Homo sapiens: one gene and its partner. The protein of the gene in region 1 interacts with the protein of each later gene in a pairwise test. Each region holds a gene or a part of one and is shown on either strand. Other genes may lie near its edges. The genes, in order: SLC20A1 and MAPK6.

The links.
Region 2: the proteins of SLC20A1 (region 1) and MAPK6 interact in a two-hybrid assay, tested with the Homo sapiens proteins (one large-scale study listed by BioGRID and IntAct).

What each region holds. Positions count from the first base shown.
Region 1 is NC_000002.12:112,659,339-112,663,159, reverse strand, and holds part of SLC20A1 (sodium-dependent phosphate transporter 1), read right to left. Parts: coding exon 3,398-3,821; intron 2,774-3,397; coding exon 2,588-2,773; intron 2,019-2,587; coding exon 1,934-2,018; intron 297-1,933; coding exon 135-296; 3' UTR 1-134. UniProt on the Homo sapiens protein: Sodium-phosphate symporter which preferentially transports the monovalent form of phosphate with a stoichiometry of two sodium ions per phosphate ion. May play a role in extracellular matrix and cartilage calcification as well as in vascular calcification.
Region 2 is NC_000015.10:52,060,634-52,064,454, reverse strand, and holds part of MAPK6 (mitogen-activated protein kinase 6), read right to left. Parts: intron 3,157-3,821; coding exon 2,955-3,156; intron 554-2,954; coding exon 1-553. UniProt on the Homo sapiens protein: Atypical MAPK protein. Phosphorylates microtubule-associated protein 2 (MAP2) and MAPKAPK5.

The DNA of each region.
Region 1 (3,821 bases):
AACACTTCCCTCCTCTGGCTCCCAAATAAAAAGACTCTTGTCAGTCTTCTGTTAACACTGTAATCATTCTTCAGGGGAGCAGGAATACCTAAGATGGTCCCAAACATTGACACAAATTTTAATCTCAAACAGCTTCACATTCTGAGGATGACATATCTGAAGATTGCCATGATGGCAGCACTGATAACTCCAGAAATGGGGACTGTGACAAACCAGGCCATAAAAATGTTACGAAAGAGACGCCAGTCAACAGCCTTCTTGGACCGGAGCCAGCCAACAGACACAACAGAGCCCACCTAGAAGAGAAGCAGACCAAGGAAACAGGTTATTGAAGTGCCAGTGGTATTCTGGCAAACAGACACCTGAGACTGTTTGGACAAGGAGCCCCAGACCCCTGGACAAGACAAAGTCCAAGAAAGCTGGTTTACAACAGGTTAAGCTGGGAAAATGAAGGCAATTTGAAAATCCAATCATAATCTATACTAACGGTAGTAAAAGGACACAAGAACTATTTCTTTTCCCCTTCTCAGCTACTGCTAAAATTTAATGAATATATACTGCTTTTATTTATTTATTTTTTGAGACGGAGTCTCGCACTGTCGCCCAGGCTGGAGTACAGTGGCGCAATCTTGGCTCACTGCAACCTCCACCTCCTGGTTTCATGTGATTCTCCTGCCTCAGCCTCCCAAGTGCTGGGATTACAGGCACCCACCACCACGCCTAGCTAATTTTTTGTATTTTTAGTAGAGATGGGGTTTCACTATGTTGGCCAGGCTGGTCTCAAACTCCTGACCTTGTGATCCACCTGCCTTGGCCTCCCAAAGTGCTGGGATTACAGGCATGAGCCACTGCACCTGGCCTATACACTGCTTTTAATAACAAATTGCATTGTAAGTCTTCCTAAGATTATTTACAGAGTGGCTGATATTAAACCTAATAAACAATTGTCTGGAGACACATCCGGGTAGCAAACAGATGACTCAGCAGGATCCATGATGGACCAGCTTAAATGCTCTTAAGGAAACCAGTTTCTTCCTTCTCCTATAATTATTAGATTGTCATCAAACAACCTTAAGATTTGTTTTGTTTCTCAGTATTTCAATCCTGAGAGGCCCTGAAATATGCCTTCTGTAAATAAACTGCTTTGCCAACATTTTGGCAAGCCTCACAGACTTGTTAGAACCAGGCCTTCAGCCACCACAAATGGCAGCAGAAACCCACCTGGCCAGAATTAAAGCACCTGCCAGTTTCTAAGCATACACCTACCCTGCTCTGAATGGCTTCCCCAAAGGCAAAGAACATAATGCTGTCGGCCGGGCGCGGTGGCTCACGCATGTAATCCTAGCACTTTGGGAGGCCGAGCCAGGTGGATCACCTGAGGTTAGGAGTTCATGACCAGCTTGGCCAACATGGTGAAATCCTGTGTCTACTAAAAATACAAAAATTAGCCAGGCATGGTGGCGGGTGCCTATAATCCCAGCTACTTGAGAGGCTGAAGCACAAGAATCACTTGAGCCCAGGAGGCGGAGGTTGCAATGAGCCGAGATTGTGCCACTGAACTCCAGCCCAGGTGACACAGCAAGACTCCAACTCATACATAAATAAATAAAACATAATGGTGCCAAGTAGAAATGACTCTTGAGATTAAAAAAAAAATTATTATAAAGAGACTACAATGAGGGAGGATAAAGTAACAAAGGAAGAGGTTAGTAGCCAGAAACTACAGTAAGCTGTATATAAAACAATGTTTCTATTATTTGGGGAGAATATCTATTTAATTGCTTAAATAAGAATAAACACAAGAAATAACTTATGAACTCTTCAAGACTCCAACTGCACAAAACTTTCTAAATCAAAGTATCAGAGAAGTAAAACTAAAAACCCTACATATTAGAAGAACCATTTGAAAGACACACATTGGCATTACACTTACTTTACAATGTGTTGTACTGATGGGAAGGCCAATATTTGATGCAATCACCACAGTGAGGGCAGATGCCAGTTCAATACTGAAGCCACTACAGACACAAAAGGATTCTTGTCAGGAAGTGAGTTTGACTTTTTTGAGAAGCTAACACTACACCTCAAGTTAACACAGTCCTGCTTTGTTCTACTCAGTCACAAAACCTCCACTGACATCTTTATTTGCTATAACCCCTAAGATCTACTTTATTTAAATCAGGCCACAGATGCCCAGTTTCCTTATTCAAAGGCTTCCAGTTTTACGTTTTTCTGGAATCCCACTATTAAATAAAATTTGCACTTTTATTTTGAAGAGTTTGGTAAACATTGAGTCTTAGCTCCCAAGACAAATAAAAGGCAAGTATACATAACTATCCGCTCTTAGCATACACAGCTTTCTCAGAAAAGTCATTTTCTTCAGAGACCACCAGAGCTAAATGGGTAAAATGTCTGACCAAAATGTTTAAGGGCCAGACAAGTAAAATCTAAAAAGAACAATGACAATAAGAACATCATGAACTTATACAAACTTGGTTACTTTAGAGATTTGTGTTAGCACTCGACAGTGTTATATCTCTGAAAAAAATGAGTACTGACATTTGTAGAACCTGCTCCACCTACTTACCTAGAGGGTGTGATCGGTGTCAGATCCTTCCCCATGGTCTGGATAACTCTTCTTCCCCAAACCCACAGACCAACACAGATACCAACACCACCATAGAGTAGAAGCCATATTGGTGTTGCCACTTTTGAAGAAACATCTCCTGTGTCATAAACCAAATATAAAGCAACCAGAGGCCCAATGGCATTGCTGGAAGAAACAAAGAGGGCAGAAGTGACTTTTCAGGCAGAACTAGATCTTGGCAAGACCCAATCTGCTGAATGATCTACCAGGTTGTCTAAAGTACAGCTTTCAAGCTCATCTGGCAAAAGGGCCTTTCTTTCTAAAGACATAAATGGAACCCCAACATACACAACAGAAAAATGAACACAGCTCTGATGGAGGGAATGCCAGGCAAATGGTGGCCTCTTTCCTCCTATAGGCAGCTTAAAGCAACTCTCAGGTTCCAATAAACAGTTTACAAACCAAACTACAAAATCATTCTATATGAAAAACTTTTAAGTTTTTCATCTTACATCTTACATCCCACAATTCACTACCAAAGAACTGAATCTCATCTTGATGGACAAAAGCCTTCTCTGTGAAGAGTATCTGTTTATATTTATCATCTACAAAAATAAACATTCTTTGTAATTCCTCTGAAGAATAAAACTGTACTGTCTTATTATGTCAATAACTGCTATTACCTCATCCTATTTGTATTATTTGGGGTCCTGTAAATGCTAGGAGTACCACTACCACAAGCACAGGCCTGTGACAAGGATAAATGGTTTAAAAATAGGGTTAGCAACACTAAGATCAATGTCAACTGACCTTACGTCATTGCCACCATGGGCGAATGACCCAAAGCAGGCTGTAAGGATCTGCAGGAACTGGAAGAGGAGAGAGACTTCAGGCTTATCCTGGTCATACCATTCTTCTAGAGAGCCATTACTTCCTTTTCTGTCACCTAGACCCATCTCTGCCTTGACACTCATGTCTATCTCAGATGCTGAGTGAAGGTCAGACACAGCATTGCAGTAACTGGTGTAACTGTCCATTCGAATTCGCTTCTTGGAGTCTGCATTAGGCCATGTCAGCTTCTCCATTTCTTCGCCCTTCTGTTCACCTTCTTTGGCACGGAATGAATCCAGAGGCATGCCACATATTGCCATGGTATAGGAAGTATAGCTATTATTGCGCCTTAAGGGTTTGTCACCGGAGTCTCCCATGCAATCTCCCACCTTGGCAAGATGTA
Region 2 (3,821 bases), on another chromosome or scaffold:
CTGGGAACTAAGCTGAATAGTTCCTGCAATAAAGGAATCAAAATCAAATCCCTGATTCTTTTCCCTTTCTTTTCCAGCCAGTTGCTGTGATGCTTCCTCTAGCGCTATCTGGGCTTTAACCAATCCATTCCTTTCACATTTTGATTTGCCTTTCTTATCAGATTTTTCTTTGCTTTGTTCTTTCCAATTGGAAAGATCTATAATAAGCTTGGGTTCATAGTAATGGTTAACTTCACTCTCTCTCCAAACTAAGTTATCTAAATATGATGATGACCTCGTTTTGTAGTTACAAGTATGGCTACACTCCAGATCACAATATTTGTTTTCATGATGATCTGAGTATTGCCAACAAGGCTCAGTAGAGTAATTGGTATCAAAAGCAGGATCCTCCAGATACTTTTCCCGATCTCCATCCAAATATTTTCGGGGATCAACTTGTACTTCTTCTTCATCAGTGACATCGGACAGAGCTCTTGGATCAAGCTGAACTTCATCAATATCAAAGTTGTTATGTACAGGCCAATCATGCTCTGAAAACTGACAATCATGATACCTGAAAAAAATCAATACACTAGCGTTATTCTACGTATATGATTTCATTTTCAAATTCACCGAGTACCTTCTATGTGACAGCACTGTGCTAGGTCTATGAGGGGATAATTATAGGAGAGTAAATATGCCTGCCTTGCCCTACCAGAACTTAGTCTTGATAGGAAAGCTCTGTTAATATATTTGGTAATTGCCAATGCAGTATGTAACTTCATTTCCAATTTGTTTTTTGTCCACCAGTTCCATGCAAACAAAAGACTTCATAGCCACAAAATGCAGATCTCAAATCTCAATCAGGTACCTTACAAATGTTTACTCTACAGTAAGGGCAACTAGAAGAGGAGGAGGTTTGCTAAATGTTTACTCTACAGTAAGGGCAACTAGAAGAGGAGGAGGTTTGCTGGAAAACTCATCACCATGAATAGCAAAAATCTCCCTGTGTATACGTGCTGCTGAATGCGCTATCCTATTACTGACATGTATAATCATTGAGGGAAAAGAAAAGAGATTAGATAACTTAGCTAGGTAAAATAGAAAATGCAGGTCAGGTGCAGTGGCTCAGGCCTGCAATGCTAGCACTTCAAGAAGGCCAAGGTGGATGGATCACTTGAGGTCAGGAGTTTGAAACCAGCCTGGCCAACATGGTGAAACCCCCACTACTAAAAATACAAAAATTAGCTGAACATGGTGGCGGGTGCCTATAGTCCCAGCTAGTAGGGAGGCTGAGGCAGGAGAACTGCTTGAACTCAGGAGGTTGCAGTGAGCAGAGAGATGGGCACCATTGCACTCCAGCCTGGCAACAGAGTGAGACTCCGTCTCAAAAAAGAAAAGAACCATTATTTAGGGGGTAGAAATGGACACATGGAGAAAAAAAGTAGTTTGCAGATTTGTGTAAACATACCATACCAATACATCAACATTTGAGGAGGGGGAAAAAAATTTCTTCTTAAAATCTTAAGATTAAAAAGATTGGCATTAGTGGTTCCCAAACTTGGCCATACATCAAAATCACCTGATGACTCTATAAGCTACCATCCTACTCTGAAGCATCAAAATCACCTGATGACTCTATAAGCTACCATCCTACTCTGAAGCAGAATTATATCTAAACTTCCCCAGAAATGTATTTATTTATTTATTTGAAACGGAGTCTTGCTCTGTCGCCCAGGCTGGAGTGCAGTGGTGCAATCTCGGCTCACTGCAACTGCTGCCTCCCAGGTTCAAGTGATTCTCCTGCCTCAGCCTCCTGAGTAGCTGGGACTACAAGAGCCCGCCATCAAGCCTGGCTTATGTTTGTATTTTTAGTAGAGACCGGGTTTCACCACGTTAGCCAGGCTGGTCTCGAACTCCTGACCACAGGTAATTGGCCTGCCTCAGCCTCGCAAAGTGCTGGGATTACAGGCATGAGCCACCGCGCCCAGCCAAACTTTCCTAGAAATCCAATTATTTCACTTTATGAAACATCAAAATATGGATAACATTATACACTAATGTTTAGACCTAAAAAAGTCTCTTTTACTGAACCTATGTTAAGTGTCCCCAAATTAATTGTGTCATTAGGAAAACAGATTCAAATACTGGCTGAGTACGGTGGTTCACGCCTATAATTTCAGCACTGTGGGAGGCCAAGGCAGGCAGATCACCTGAGGTCAGGAGTTCGAGACCAGCCTGGCCAACATAAAATCCCACCTCTACTAAAAATTAGCTGGGTACCTGTAATCCCAGCTACTCGGGAGGCTGAGGCAGGACAGTGAGCTGAGCTTGCATCACTGCACTCCAGCCTGCACTCTAGCCTGGGTGACAGAGTGAGATTCCATCTCAAAAAAAAAAAAAAAAAATCCTGCATCTAATATGAATCAAATACTTTTTATGTTAAGATATAACTACCACTGAGACACTGGAGATACTTTATTGGATATGACTGAGTCTTGTCATCTAACATCTTAAATTTTTGACATTCATAAAATCACAGTTAAAGGACTTTATAAATATGCCTTAATGACTTTGAAAATGTTTCAAAGTAGCATTTAACTTTTCCCATATATCATCTAACCAGTAATTACTTTATTAAATGTTTTAATTAACGGCTATTTATAGATATAAATATTAAGGACCATTACTAAATTTTTCTTTGAGATGGAGTCTTGCTCTATTGCCCAGACTGGAATGCAGTGGCATAATCTCGGCAGCCTCGGCCACTTGGGTTCAAGTGATTTTCCTGCCTCAGCCTCCAAGTAGCTAGGACTACAGGCGCCTGCCACCACACCTGACTAATTTTTGTATCTTTACATTACTAAATTTTTAAGACTTCTACAATGTCTTATACATAATTTTAAAAAAACTCACTACATATGGTCCACTGAAAGTTCAGTAAATATTATTTTTCTAATTTAGGATCAATTTACCTTTCCCAGTTATAAATGTGACTGTGAGTTTCATCCATAAGCAAAATATCATCAACTTCATCTTCAATATGAAAAGGATGGCTTGAAATTGGCTCATCCATTGGAAAAGAATATATGCTCATGTAAGGATGGGAGAGTGCTTCTTCTGCTGTTAACCGATCCATGGGGCTAAATGTCAAAATTTGTTCCAGGAAATCCAGTGCTGCAGAGGAAAAGGTAAAAGTTTTTCAGAAAAGAATTGCTTACCTTTAGAAAAACAGTAAATGTTGATCTCATTTATTTCAATGACTAGCTAAGTGATTACCTTAGCACTACATACTACACAACAGGAAATGAGCATCTTAATTGTACTAATAGGTCCCCATCTTATAAAAGGGAAAAATGGACTACACAATTAAAAAGTTAATTTGTCAGAAATAAAACTTACCTGATTTACAACTTAAAAACGATTTTCTGGCTGAGTGTGGTGGCTCACGCCTGTAATCCCGGCCTAATATATAGGTTTTAATCCTAGCTCTGCAAGTCACTGGCTTAACTCAATTACTAGCACTGTAGTGCTGGATAGGCTACTAAAACTTGATGAACATCAGTTTCTTCATGCATAAAGTAGACATAGATATTTCATAAGGTACAAAAATGAGATGTAATCATAGTGTCTGGTATGTAATAAAAGCCCTTTCCCATCCTTCACTGATGGGAAGTACAACAGTAAAACATCTCTGTTGTACTAATTTCTTGATCTCTGCTTCACATCACACTCCAGCATAGTTCACACACTGACCTTGCACATCTTAGGACTCTGGTTAACCACAAATCCAGTTCTTCCCATAAAATAGTCTAGTAGGCCTTCCTTAGTTCCTCACGCAG